Homo sapiens: one gene and its partner. The protein of the gene in region 1 interacts with the protein of each later gene in a pairwise test. Each region holds a gene or a part of one and is shown in the gene's direction. Other genes may lie near its edges. The genes, in order: XPOT and TRA2A.

Region 1 (7,229 bases):
AAACACTCTGATCCCTGAATGCTCAGGGAGACTGATTTGAATAATAATAAAACTCAGTCTCCCATACAGGGAGCTCTATGTGAATTACTCTTTCTCTATTGAGATTCCCCTATCTTGATAAATTGGGTCTGTCTAGGCAGCAGGGAACCTATTGGGCAGTTACAAAAGGAGCCTTTTGGGCAGTTACAAAATGATAGTGTTATTTGTCAACATGTTGATGACTAACATTTTCATCTGAGATGAGAAACTGCCCATCCCTTCATGGACGGAGGAGGCAGAATATGGAATGGTCAAATGTAATACCTCTCTTAGGTCCTCTTCAGTTGGATTCTACCAAGTGCTTCTTTATTTGTTCTTTTTGTTGTTGTTGTTGTTGTGGTTGTTGAGATGAAGTCTCACTCTGTTGCCCAAGCTGGAGTGCAGTGGTGCGATCTCAGCTCACTGCAACTCCACCTCCCGGTTCAAGCAATTCTCCTGCCTCAGCCTCCCGAGTAGCTGGGACTACAGGCATGTGCCACCACGTCCTGCTAATTTTTGTATTTTTAGTAGAGGCAGGGTTTCACTATGTTGGCCAAGCTGGTCTTGAACTCCTGACCTCCTGAACCACCCATCTCGGCCTCCCAAGGTGCTGGGATTACAGGCATGCATCACCACACCCGGCTTTTTTTTTTTGAGATGGAGTCTCACTGTGTTGCCCAAGCTGGAGTGCAGTGGCGCAATCTCGGCTCACTGCAACCTCCCAGGTTCATGCAATTCTCCTGCCTCAGCTTCCCAAGTAACTGGGACTACAGGCATGTGCCACCATGCCCGGCTAATTTTTTTTTTGTATTTTTAGTAGAGACGTGATTTTACTGTGTTGGCCAGGCTGGTCTCGATCTCTTGACCTTGTGATCCATCTGCCTCAGCCTCCCAAAGTGCCGGGATTACAGGCATGAGCCACCGCGCCTAGCCTCTTTATTTGTTCTGAAATAATATGAGTTTACAAAGTTGAAAGAGATTTCTACAATTCTAGGTATTTCAACTACCATAAACGAAAGAGCTAATGTTAGTAGATAAACTGTAGATAAACTGAAGATAGGCTTTGTATAACATTCAACATAAGAAGTAGCCATAAAATGAATTTACAAACAAAACAGCAAGTAAAGACATCTATAATACGATAGATTGAATTGCCATATTCTTTAGGATGAGGCCTGGAATATGCTGAACATACAGATTGCAGAGGCACTCAGCCCAAGATTAGTATTGGGCCTTCATACTCCACAGTTGATCATCACAGCTAATATAAGAATTCATGCAATGATTCAGTTATTGAGTTGAAACTAGCAGGCTGGCACTGTGCTAGACTCGAAAGATATACTGAAATAGGTAGGGCAGAAATCCTAGCCTGAGATTTTTTTTCTTAGAAATAACATTCATAGCAACTTGTGAAAAAAGCCATGCCTGTGTCTCCAGCAGCAGTGAAACAAGATGGTGGATCCCCTCACCATTAACCCCCATATGGAAAGGGTATATGTAATTCAGAAGGGATGTGTATTATGTCTGTTCTCACACTGCTATAAAGGAATGCCTGGGACTGGGTAATTTATAAAGGAAAGAGATTTAATTGACTCACAGTACCTCAGGGCTGAGGAGGCCTCAGGAAACTTACAATCATGGCAGAAGGGGAAGCAAACACATCATTCTTCACATGGTGGCAGGGGAGAGAAGAATGAGTGCCCAGCAAAGGGGGAAGCCCCTTATAAAACCATCAGATCTCATGAAAACTCACTATTACGAGAACAGGGTGGGGGAAACCAACCCCATGATTCAATTATCTCCACCTGATCCCGCCCATGACATGAGGGGATTATGGGAATTACAATTCAAGATGAGATTTGGGTGGAGACACAGCCAAACCACGTCAGGATGTGTAGACAACTGAAGTACAATAACATCAAGGCTGTTTTGACGTAAGGGCAGAATTTACAGTATGTGCTCTCACACAACTTGAAATCTTAAAGGCCTTCCGGGAACAGGGTTAATCAGAAACCAACATGGCAGATTAGTACCAAAGATGGAGTTACTTTAGCTTCCAGATTCCACCCATCAATCCAGCTCTTACAGTTTCACTCGCCCTCCTATTTGGAGATGGTCCCTGAGCTTTTAGGGAGGGTGGTTTCATATGATATAGCTTTAGCAGCAGCGCCCTAGCAGTGGAAAACAGATTGGGCCCAGAGAGATTCCAAATGAGGGAGATTCACAGGCTTTGTTGAATTATCTCTAGTCTTGAGAATACCATGACTTTGGTTTTCTCAGAAGTAAAACAAGAGATACTTCTTGTTTATAATTAATTTGAATAATTAATAATTTGAATAGTAGAAACATAATGCATGCAAGGATTACAATCAAAAGAAAATTTGTATGCCAGAACAACAAAGAACCTATTTCGTTGGGAAGCCAACTGAGAGCAGCGTGAAGAAAATTAAGGCCTGACACAGGGACTCACACTCGTAATTCCAACACTTTGGGAAGCTGAGGTGGGAGGTTCATTTGAGCCTGGGAGTTAGAGATCAGCCTGGGCAACAGAGCAAGTCCCCATCTCTACAAAAACAAACAAAAATAGCCAGGTATGATGGTATGCACCCGTAGTCCCAGCTCCTTGGGCGGCTGAGGCAGGAGGATTGCTTGAGCCCAGGAGGTCAAGGCTGCAGTGAGCTATGACCACTCTACTCCAGACTGGGTAACAGAGCGAGACCCTTTCTCTAAAAACAAGAAAAAATTAAAACCCAGTTCTCCTTTAGCGACATCTTGTAGCCACTAGCCTGACATTTTAAACACATAAATTAGAAACATGATGCAAGAGTGATTCAAGGTATTTTATATAGGAAATGCCTGGTGTAGTGTCTTGGACAGCTAAATAAAGGTAGCTGTTAAAACATTAGTTTTATTCTATGCTCTTACCATTCCTCCCTCTCCAAGTTTTGTTTGTAGTCTGTGGCAGCAACCTAGTCTGTATTTAGTACACATTGAATAATCAACAATGAAATGTAAATATTGAGCACATTGTGTGTCAAACACATGTATTAACTCAAACCTCACAGAAACCCTTTGAGGTCGGTACTATTAACAATCCCCATTTTACATACGAGTAAACTGAAGCATGGATAGACTAAAGTAAAGTGCCTGAGGTCAACTAGTGAGGAGGCGGAGTGGCAGTCAAGTCGAGGCAGCCTAAGCCTACACTGCCTCTATGTTGCATTAATAAATTAATAAATCTGTGACCAAATAAATGAAGTGACATTTAGTAGCATCGAAAGATCCCGTGAGTAGGACTTCCTAAGAATGCTCTCCTTCTTTTCATGGACAAAATTTTAGTCTGTTTAAAATAAATTTTGGACCGGACACCGTGGCTCACGCCTGTAATCCCAGTACTTTGGGAGGCCGAGGCAGGTGATCACTTGAGGTCAGGAGTTCGAGATCAGCCTGTCCAACATGGTGCAACCCTGTCTCTACGAAAAATACAAAAATTAGCTGGGTATGGTGGCGCGCGCCTGTCATCCCAGCTACTCAGGAGGCTGATGCAGGAGAACTGCTTGAACCCCGGAGGCGGAGGTTGCAGTGAGCCAAGATCTCGCCATTGCACCCCATCCTGGGCGACAGAGCGAGACTCCGTCTCAAAGAATAAATAAATAAATTAATTAATTAATTTTGAAAACCTGTCAGCACTCATCAGAGCTTTACACTGCTGTACTCGGGACACTTGGGGCCGTAGACAAGCAATTAAATTGACTCACACGTGGTTAGAACCACGTCATCCTGATTCGTGAATCCGTACTCTCAACTACTAGAAGCCCTTTGTGGAATGCTCGGGGCGAACCTGACGCTTGAGCTCTGACACCACGCAGACACAGCCGGGGATTTAGGAGCTGGGTAGGGACTCCTGGGCCGGATGCCTCATCCCGGCATGCACCTCAAGCCCCGGTGACCACGCCTTCCGGCGAGCGCCAGGGAGCGCGTGTGCGCCTCGCCGCCCGGAAGCGCCGGCCGCTCCCTGCATGCTGGGAGTTGTAGGCCTCCGGCGTCAGCCCGCGGGCTGCCGCCCGCACTCTCCAAGAGACTGCTGGCGCCGGCGCCCGCCCGCGCGGCACCGACGCGGGGAGCGCGCTTCGCGCTGACTCAGCGGCGGCGGCGGCTGCGGCGGCGGCGGCGGCGTTAGCCGGCCCTCGCGCTCTTTCCCTTCCTGGGGCGCCGACCCCGCCCGCTTGCTTGCTTGCTTGCTTGCCTGCCTGCCTGCCTGCCCGGCGCCACGCAAGAGAAGGTGCCAGGGGACGCAGAGCGACTAGAGGCGCGCGGTCCCGGCCAGCACCGTCTCTGGCGTTGTAGCTGCGGCCGTGGCGGAGGACTACGGCGACAAGGACGAGGGCCGCTCTCCCAGCTCTCTGCGTGCCGCGCCGCTCCGCTCCGCTGGCTGACCATCTGGAGTGCAGGCTGGGAGGCGGGATGGAGTGATAGGGAAGGTGACTCGGGGCTCGGGGGCAGCGGGACCGGGACCAGGTTTGGTCCGCGTGAGGCTTCGAGGAAGTTGGCCGGGGCGGACCGGCCCGGGGGAGTCCCGACGCCAGGGAGGGTGCAGGCTTGGGACCCTCTATGGCGGTGCACCCCCTGGCTGGGCGGACCGGGTGGGGGTGGGTACGAGCCGGGGCCGCCGCCGAGGAGCGCGTCCCGAGTGCGTGGCCGGCGGTTGCTTGGTGTTTCATCACCCGAATTGCCACGAGGCTTCCTTTAGGGGAGGGATCGGGGGAGGGATGGGAGCAAGGCTAGCAGAGGAGGGTCGGCATCGCCTGTGGTTCCGAAGCCCGTTAGTCATCGTTGTAGCGTTATCAACTGTGGAGACCTCAAACTTGATTCTTCCCCCACCCCTGGACAAAAAGGAAAAGTGTTATTTCTGTGCAGTAATTGGCCAGCACGGACGCTCCATTTCTTCTCAAACCTTCCTCACCATCCTGCAGGACTAGAGAAGCATGAGGTTTCCCTGTAACCAGAAAAACGAGTACTTTTTGAAAGTGCTAATTAGTTGTGGCGGGCGGGGGTTGGGGGAGAGTTACGTTTTATTAAACCGACTTGTCAGCGTGGTGTTAAAAGGCTGGAAAGATTCAGTCGTAGTATTTGAAACAGTCTTCAGTAGGTGTAGAGGAATTTTTCCAAATTGTTTGATTCTTAATGGCTATCCAGGAAAAGTTAAGGCTTAATATTTTAAGTATGTTGCTTGCCTTCCCCCAAGAACCTTTGCAAGATGCATAATTGTTTACCGTATTGAAACATTTTTTGGGGTTTTGTTGTTGTTGTTTTGAGACGGAGTCTCGCTCGGTCGCCCAGGCTGCAGTGCAGTGGTGCCATCTCGGCTCACTGCAACCTCTGCCTCCCAGGTTCAAGTGATTCTGCAGCCTCAGCCTCCCGAGTAGCTCTATTACAGGTGCGCCCCGCCACACCTGGCTACTTTTTGTATTTTTCGTAGAGATGGAGTTTCACCGTGTTAGCCAGGATGGTCTCGATCTCTTGACCTCGCGATCCGCCCGCCTCAGCCTCCCAAAGTGCTGGGATTACAGGCGTGAGCCACCGCGCCCGGCCTTCCACTGCATATTGATCGTCCAAATGCCTTCTATGTGGGGGATTCTTTCTGTAGTGACAACTGTTAACTAGTTTGTTTCCTTGGGTTTATTGGCTATGTTTTCCTTAGGGCCACTTCATTTTTCTCCCGATAGCTTCAGAGTGACTTGACCAAGCTTAAGCACTTTTTCTTTTTTTTGACACAGTGTCTCACTCTGTCGCCCAGGCGGGAGTGCAATGACACGATCTCCGCTCACTGCAACCTCCCCCTCCCGGGTTCATGCGAGTCTTCTGCCTCAGCCTCCTGGGTAGCTGGGATTACAGGCGCAGGCCACCATGCCCAGCTAATTTTTGTATTTTTAGTAGAGACGGCGTTTCACCGTGTTGGTCAGGCTGGTCTCGAACTCCTGACCTCGTGATCCGCCCACCTCGGCCTCCCAAAATGCTGGGATTACAGGCGTGAGCCACCGTGCCCAGCCAGCAATTTTTTTTAGATGGAGTTTCGCTCTCGTTGACCAGGCTGGAGTGCGGTGGCGCCATCTCAGCTCACTGCAACCTCCGCCTCCCGGGTTCAAGCGATTCTCCTGCCTCAGCCTCCCGAATAGCTGGGATTGCAGGCATGTGCCACCACACCCGGCTAATTTTTGTATTTTTAGTAGAGACGGGGTTTCTCCATGTTGGTCAGGCTGGTCTCGAACTCCCGACCTCAGTTGATCTGCGCCCCCCTCCCCTCGGCCTTCCTTAGTGCTGGGATTATAGGCGTGAGCCACCCTGCCTGGCCAGCATTTTTTTAAAAAGCCATAGCAAATTCAAGGAAGCTTTTATTGGACTTCTCAATCAGGGATTCTTAGAAACTCCGAAATCGTTTTTTCTCTCTGTGGGCATTTTTCAGGGGAATGGACATCAGATTTTCTTAACATTTAGGGGGCGAAGGGAACCAGTGCCTTTCTTTGTGTTTTTCTGTCTTTTAAAAATGCTGATCTGGTATAAGAATGCCCCAAGTCGTTTCCATTCCACATGTTCCTACCTCTGACTATAAACAACGTATTGAGGGCTCACTATGTGCCAGCCATGCTCTGCATACCTTATCTCTTTGAAGCCTTTACAACTTTATGAGGCATATGGTCTTTTTCCCATGTCATAGAAAGGGTTCTCTCAGGTTTTGTAAGTTGTCCAAGTGGCCCCAATTAAAAAATGACAAGATGGGGATACAAACCCAGGTCTTTGAAATCCAAAACCTATGCTCTACTATGTCCTAGGGACATAGTGATGGATAGTCAAGACAGTCCTTGCCCTTTAAGATTGTGAGAAATGGCCGGGTGGCTCACACCTGTAATCCCAGCACTTTGGGAGGCCGAGTCTGGCAGATCACCTGAGATTAGGGGTTCGAGACCAGCCTGGGCAACATGGTGAAACCCCATCTCTACTAAAAAATACAAAAATTAGCCGGGTGTGGTGGCTCACCCCTGTAATCTCAGCTATTTGGGAGGCTGAGGCAGAAGAATCACTTGAACCCAGGAGCCAGAGGCTGCAGTGAGCCGAGATCATGTCACTGCACTCCACCCTGGGCAACAGAGTGAGACTGTCTCAAAAAAAAAAAAAAAAGATTAATGAGAGAAAACTAGTAAGCTGGCAGTGAC
Region 2 (7,376 bases), on another chromosome or scaffold:
TGGTGTATGACCAGGGAAACAGAAAACCCAGAAATAGACTCAACTCCGTAAGAAAATGTAGTGTATAACAAAGGTGACATCTAAAAAGCAAAGATGGGCTTTTTAATGCTGGGATCACTGGGTAGCCATTTGGAAAAGGTAAAATTAGATCTATAGTCCACATCATACATAAGAACAAATGCCAAATGGATCACGAATCTAAATGTAAAATATGAAGCTACATAACTACTAGAAGAAAACATAGTGAATTCCTCTTTAATCTCAGTATGGGAAAAGGCTAACTATGACTTAAAATCCAGGGGCAGCCGGGTGCACTGGCTCACACCTGTAATCCCAACACTTTGGGAGGCCGAGGCATGCGGATCACGAGGTCAGGAGTTTGAGACCAGCCTGACCAATACGGTGAAACCCCATCTCTACTAAAAATACAAAAATTAGCCGGACGTGGTGGTCCTCACCTGTAATCCCAGCTCAGGAGGCTGAGGCAGGAGAATCGCTTGAACCTGGAGGTGGAGGTTGCAGTGAGGCGAGATTGCGCCATTACACTCCAGCCTGGGCGACAGGGCAAGATTCCATTTCAAAAAAAAAAAAAAAATAGTGGCCAGGCACAGTGGCTCACGCCTGTAATCCCAGCACTTTGGGAGGCCAAGGTGGGTGGATCACCTGAAGTCAGGAGTTCAAGACCAGCCTGGCCAACATGGTGAAAACCCATCTCTACTAAAAAATACAAAAATTAGCTGGGTGTGGTGGTGCATGCCTGTAAGCCCAGCTACTTGGGAGGCGGAGGTTGCAGTGAGCCGAGAATGAGCCATTGCACTCCAGCCTGGGCAACAAGAGCAAAATTCAGTCTCAAAAAAAAAAAGTATGCTAATTTGGGAATCTTTTATTGCCATAGTAAAATTAATTAATTAAATTAAAAAATCAAAAAATAGTATGCAAAATATACCATAAGCAAAGTCAAATACAATTTACAAACTAGGAGAAAATATTTGCAACATAAAGCACAAATAAAAGGCTAATATTCCTAATATACAAGGAACTCATAAAACTTGAGGGACAAAGGATAAAAATCCAATAGAAAAATGGAAAATAGGCCGGGCACAGTGGCTCACACCTGTAATCCCAGCACTTTGGGAGGCCGAGGTGGGCGGATCACCTGAGGTCGGGAGTTCGAGACCAGCCGGACCAACCTGGAGAAACCCCGTCTCTACTAAAAATACAAAATTAGCCAGACGTGCTGGCGCATGCCTGTAATCCCAGCTACTCGAGAGGCTGAGGCAGGAGAATCGCTTTAACCCGGGAGGCGGAGGTTGCAGTGAGCTGAGATCGTGCCATTGCACTCCAGCCTGGGCAACAAGAGTGAAACTCCGTCTCGGAAAAAAAAAAAAAGAAAAATGGAAAATAGACAATTCCGAAAAAAGGACATTATATATATGTTTAAACATATCAAAAGTTTATAACTGAAATCTGGGACAATTCAAGCAACAAAATAAATAATGATAGCAATGGATTATAACTCATAAAGCAAATATCTCCTATCATCCCGGCACTTTGGGAGGCCGAGGTGGGTGGATCACTCGAGGCCAGGAGTTAGAGACTAGCCTGGCCAACATCAAAACCCCGTCTCTACAAAAAAATACAAAAATTAGCCGAGCACAGTGGCATGCACCTGTGGTCTCAGCTACTGGGGAGGCTAAGGCAGAATAATCTCTAGAGCCCGAGAGACAGAGGTTGCAGTGAGCCAAGACTGTGCCACTGTACTCCAGCCTGGGCACGGGAGTGAAACTCTGTCTCAAAAAAAAAGGCAAAGAAAAAAGAAACTACTCTTCTAGGCCCGGCCTGGTTCCTCAACACTTTGGGAGGCCTAGGCGGCAGGATCACTTGAGCCCAGGAGTTTGAGAGCAGCCTGGGCAACATGGCAAAACCTGGTCTCTACAATAATTTAAAAATTAGCTGGGCATGGTGTTGGGGGCCTGTAGTCCCAGCTATGTGAGAGGGTGTGGTGGGAGGATCGTTGGAGCCATGATTGTGCCACTGCACTCCAGCCTGGGTGACAGAGTCAGATTATGTCTCCAAAAAATAAATAAAAGGAAAAAAGGGTAGGGGGGAAGACTCTTAGTCCATAATAGTCTACCTTTCTCCCATCCTTGATTGTGAATTTAATCTGTTGGGGAATGTGGTTATTTGTCCTGTGGAAGTTGATTACTTCATCTCGGTGTTTTTATTTTTCCCTTTCTTGTATTTCCTGTAAACTGTTGGCTAGATCTAAGGTTTAATTAGATTTGAGTTCAATTTGAGGGATCAGGAATACTTCACAGGAGGAACTGGGTATTTTCTATTGCATCACATCATGAGGTATCTCGTATCTGGTTATCTCACTTTTAATGGTACTAAGATTGATCAGTGGTTCAAATGGTATCAACCTGGCTGGGCGTGGCAGCTCACGTCTGTAATCCCAGCACTTTGGGAGGCTGAGGCGGGCAGATCATCTGAAGTCACAAGTTCCAGCCCACGCTGGCCAACATGGTGAAACCCCATCTCTACGAAAAATACAAAAATTAGCCGGGTGTGGTGGCACGCACTGTAATCCCAGCTACTCGGGAAGCTGAGCCAGGAGAATCACTTGAACCCGGAGGTGGAGGTTGCAGTGAGCCGAGATCGCGCCACTGCACTCCAGCCTGGGTGACAGAGCAAGTCTCCGTCTCAATAATAATAATAATAATTTCTTTTGTAGAGATGGGGGCTCACCATGTTGACCAGGCTGGTTTCGAACTTCTGGCCTCAAGCGATCTTCCGCCTAGGGTCTCCAAAGTACTGGGATTACAGGCGTCAGCCACCACACCCAGCCAAGTTCAACATCTTTTCTAAGAGCCAGATGTCATTTAAGTTTATCCCTATCAATAACTGACATTCAAATGCTGAAATCTTGCCCCCAGTGGTAGCAATCTTCATAATAATGCCAGATGAACTTTCCTACCATAGAACTATAGTTGAAAGTCTATGTCAATCTTTTTACTACAAAGCACTGTAGGAAAAAAATTTAAGATGAAACTAATTTTTAAAGTTGCATTACACAAGTAAAACTCATCTCAGAGATTATTACTATGATTGGGAACCAAGTTGACAGATTTGGGAGGTCTTCACTGTGAAGCTTTATGGAAATATCTAAGTCAAAAAAACTAGTAGGGAGCTAAGCATTATAAAAAAAAAACTACACGGCTGTCTCTAGGAGGGGGAACTGGAGCAGGGACACGAGGCAAGGAGCAGCGGCTTTGCATCATAACCTCATCTGTGCATGTACTACGTCGACATTACACAGGGCAAATATGGAAGAAAAGTAATACAGTCAGCTGACAACGTGCCCCCCAAAAGCCTGTTATATATACACGATTCCAGCCGGGCGCGGTGGCTCAGGCCTGTAATCTCAGCACTTTGGGAGGCCGAGGCGAGCAGATCGCTTGAGTCCACAAATTCGAGACCAGCCTGGGCAGCATGTCAAAACCCCATCTCTGCAAAACACACAAAAATTAGCCGGGTGGGCCGGGTACGGTGGTTCACCCTTGCAATCTCAGCACTTTGAGAGGCCCAGGCGGGCAAATCACCTGAGGTCAGGAGTTTGAGACCAGCCTGTCCAACATGGTGAAACCCCCGTCTCTGCTAAAAATACAAAAATTAGCCGGGCGTGGTGGTGCATGCCTGTAATCCCAGCTACTGGGGAGGCTGAGGCAGGAGAATTGCTTGAACCTGCGAGGTGGAGGTTGCAATGAACCTAGATAGCGCCACTGCACTTCAGCCTGGGCAACAGAGTGAGACTCCGTCCCAAAAAAGAAAAAAATTAGCCGGGCGTGGTGGCGCGCGCGGGAGCCTGAGGTGGGAGGATCGTCTGAGCCCGGGAGTTTGAGGCTGTGGTGAGCAGTGATCGCTTCACTGCACTTCAGCTTGGGTGACAGAGCGAGACCCTGACTCAAAAAATAAACAAACATAAAAAAACGCTTCCAATGTTTTGTTCCCTTACATCAGAATCCACTTGGACAATATTTAAAGGGGCTAAGGTCATATAAGGCTCATCTGGCGACTGAAAAGTCTTCAAAGAGGTTGACGCGTCCGAGGTGAGTCTGAAGTTTGGAGGACAGCACGGGACCGCGATTCCAAGGCGCCCAGGTTGAGAGCGCAGGCCGCCCGCCAACCTCCACCCTCGCTCCAGGCCCAGCCGACACAAAGCCTCGCGGGAGGTGGAGCCTCGTGACGTCACAGAGACGCCCGCCCCCTTTACGTCGTGCTCTGAGGAGGCCAGGAGATTTCTGGCGGCGCCGGCGCCATTTTGCTGGAGCCTGCGACCGAGTGGGAGTGGAGTGGAGCGGCTGTGGTTGCCGACTCTTTCCTCTTCCCCACGGTCCAGTCAGCGGGTTAATTAGGCCATCGGCCCTCGAGCCGAGACTTGTCTCTTATTTAGTTCTGGGGAGCGCCTCGTCGACATGAGTGATGTGGAGGAAAACAACTTCGAGGGCAGAGTGAGTACAAAGCCGCGGGAGCCGTCTAGGCGGCGGCCCAATGCTCGGGGTTTCACGGGAACAAGCGCGGTCGGGCGGGGTTGCGGGTAGTCCCGCGAGGAGCAACCTCTGGAGCCATCGCGATTGATTCCTCCCATCCCAAGATGGCTTCTGGGTTCCACTCCTTCCCCAAACACCACGGATAACACCCCTCCCCCTTTTTTGGAGGCTGACTGATACCTGGACTTCTGGGTCCTCTTCCCTCCCCGCCCCCGCATTGCTTCCTCCCTTCTCCCCACCCCTGAGGCTTCCTTATGTCTGCTCCGAGGTGTGGGTCCCCGTCGCGGTTGGGCGGGAGGAGGCGGCAGGGAGCTCCCCTCCGTCCGGATAGTGGTAGGTGCTTCCTGCGGTGGCATTTCTGGCGACCCCGAGCATCGTAGAGGGTCTCGGGATCGAAAGTGCGCGGGGCTGCTTTCCGGGCGGGGAGAAGCTGGCGTGGGACTAGCTGGGGCCTGTGTCTCCTTGGCTCTCTATTTCAGTGAGCGGCCGCGTCTCTGTTGGAACCGGCGGCGTTGCGTCTAAAAAGGCGAAAGCCTTGAGGTTGAAGGTGGGACGAGCCTAATGAAGTGGTTAGTCAACGACCGCACCGACCCTTAAGCGTTCTTAAGACGAGAGCTGTGAGGGGAAACTACGCAAGGAGCCCTTTTCCCTTAATGTCCCTTCGACTTTCCTTTCACTTCGAAATGAATGTGGAAATGCTGTCACGCCTTATTTTTCTAATTCCTCGATGTTGGGTTTTTTCTCTTCTTTATATCTCAACTTTTAATGCTCTTCTTCCTATGACCTTTCATCTAAAAACTGACCACTCCTTTACAGGTTTTTACGGTAAAAAAAAAAAAATCTGTCTTTCTTTAATCTTACATAGCTGAACGAATTCATTGGCTCAGTATTTTTAAGATAACTAGTCAGTATATACTGTTCTGTAACTTAAAAGATGACCTGAAAATTAACAGGCCCTCTCCCATTTCTCTTCTCACTCTATCCCCCACCGAAGAGGGCTCAGAAAAAAGTTTTTATTAATATATTTGGGGTCGGAGAAATACAAACATCACAAAGAATACGATATCCCCAGCTTAAATGTACTGGAACGTTTGTCAGTGAGTTTCATTTCCAAAGTTTACCCTACATAGGGAATTGTAGAAGTGAGTTAGTAGAAGTGAGTTCGTGTGAAACCCTGGAAAGAAAACAAAAGCCCCATGCAACACGTTCCGGGCTGTTGTGTAGATGTTTATTCTAGTCACTAGGGGAAGCACATAAAAACACCTGAGGTGTGTGTGCTGAAGGGCGAATTTTGTCCTTTTGGGGAGTTCATGATATAAACATCTAGAACCAAAAAGTCAAATCAGAAGGTCAGTTTAGGCTTTAGTTCTCTTTGAGGAAAGATTTAAAGCAATAGACTATAATAGTTACCCGGTAGACTAAAAAATTTGCCTTTAATTCTTTTGATTGGAATTTTTTTTTACAAAGTTTGGAGCATGGAAACAAATGAAAATTGAACCTGCTTATTTTTTAGGATGGTGTATTGATGGCCCCAACAGAACTTTCTAAAATCATGCGATAAACATATATGATAGTAGTTGTAAAATGCTTCTTGTTTTGAAAATGTTGAGTAATTATCGATAGAAATTTTGCTGTCCATTCATACATTCCTTCAATTAACTTTCATTGTTAAAAAATTGGGGGATTGATGTTTGGTTTGGTTTGTGGGGAGTGAAGAGGACTACTGGAGGGACCTTGTTTGCTTGCTTTTTTTCTTTTTTTAATTTATCATCAAGTCTAGGAAAGGAGTAAGTTGCCGACAATTGTCACTTTTCCCTCCTAAGAAAGTAACATGTTAAGATTCCCACCTACCAGCCTGGGTGACAGTGAGACTCCCGTCTCAAAAAAAAAAAAAAAGATTCCCACCCACTTTTAAGCTAAAGTATATGTAGGCATTAAAGATTTATTTAATAGAAATAAAGGGCCCTCTTACGGCCCTTTGTGGTCATAGGAAATATTTTTTTCACAAGTGGTACCCAAGTGTATTTTAGTGTAAATCAACTAGTGCTTGTAGGCTCACCTGTTGTATCTTTTTATTTTTCGTCTTTTAGTTTTTATAGGATGAGATAATTGTCTTTATTTGTAATTGGTTAAAGAATTAGAACAATGCGAGAAGCTTGTCTGGAGATGCCCTTTTTAAAATCGTTTCTGGCCGGGCGCAGTGGCTCACGCCTGTAATCCAACAATTTTTGGGAGGCTGAGGCGGGTGGATTACTTGAGGTTAGGAGTTCGAGACTAGCCTGCCCAACGTGGTGAAACCCTGTCTCTACTAAAAATACAAAATTAGCCGGGCGTGGTGGCGTGCGCCTGTGATCACAGCTACTTAGGAGGCTGAGGCAGGAGAATTACTTGAACCTGGGAGGCGGAATTGCGCCACGACACTCCAGTCTAGGCAACAGAATGAGACTCTTGTCTCAAAAATAAGTAAATACGTAGGTCCATAAAAGCAATTTTAAGTGGAGATGTCCTTTGGAGCTGGGAGTGAAGGTAGCACTTAAGCGGTGGCTTTGCATGTCTTGATAAAAGTAATGAGTTGTTTGCCTCAATACAGCTTCAACTAAAATTCGGATTTTGAGCTCAAAAAATGTTAATGCCCTTCATAGAAATTAAGGGGAATGGAAATCTTTTCTTAACATTTTACACCTCTACCCCTAAAATTTTAAGAACTGTACTTTATAAAAATGTGCAATTTTCATACAGCATCCCAGTGTTGATCATGGAGGTTAATGATTCTTTATTGTTAGGGACCTATCTTGTAATTCCAGAGTTATTTATGTTTTCTACAGT

What was found.
Region 2: the proteins of XPOT (region 1) and TRA2A interact in binary tests that used the Homo sapiens proteins (3 or more experiments, as listed by UniProt).

The regions. Positions count from the first base shown.
Region 1 is NC_000012.12:64,400,306-64,407,534, forward strand, and holds the start of XPOT (exportin-T), read left to right. Parts: upstream 1-4,086; 5' UTR 4,087-4,499; exon of another isoform or gene 4,500-5,455; intron 5,456-7,229. UniProt on the Homo sapiens protein: Mediates the nuclear export of aminoacylated tRNAs. In the nucleus binds to tRNA and to the GTPase Ran in its active GTP-bound form. Docking of this trimeric complex to the nuclear pore complex (NPC) is mediated through binding to nucleoporins.
Region 2 is NC_000007.14:23,528,924-23,536,299, reverse strand, and holds the start of TRA2A (transformer-2 protein homolog alpha), read left to right. Parts: upstream 1-4,318; 5' UTR 4,319-4,475; coding exon 4,476-4,511; intron 4,512-5,029; exon of another isoform or gene 5,030-5,119; intron 5,120-7,376. UniProt on the Homo sapiens protein: Sequence-specific RNA-binding protein which participates in the control of pre-mRNA splicing.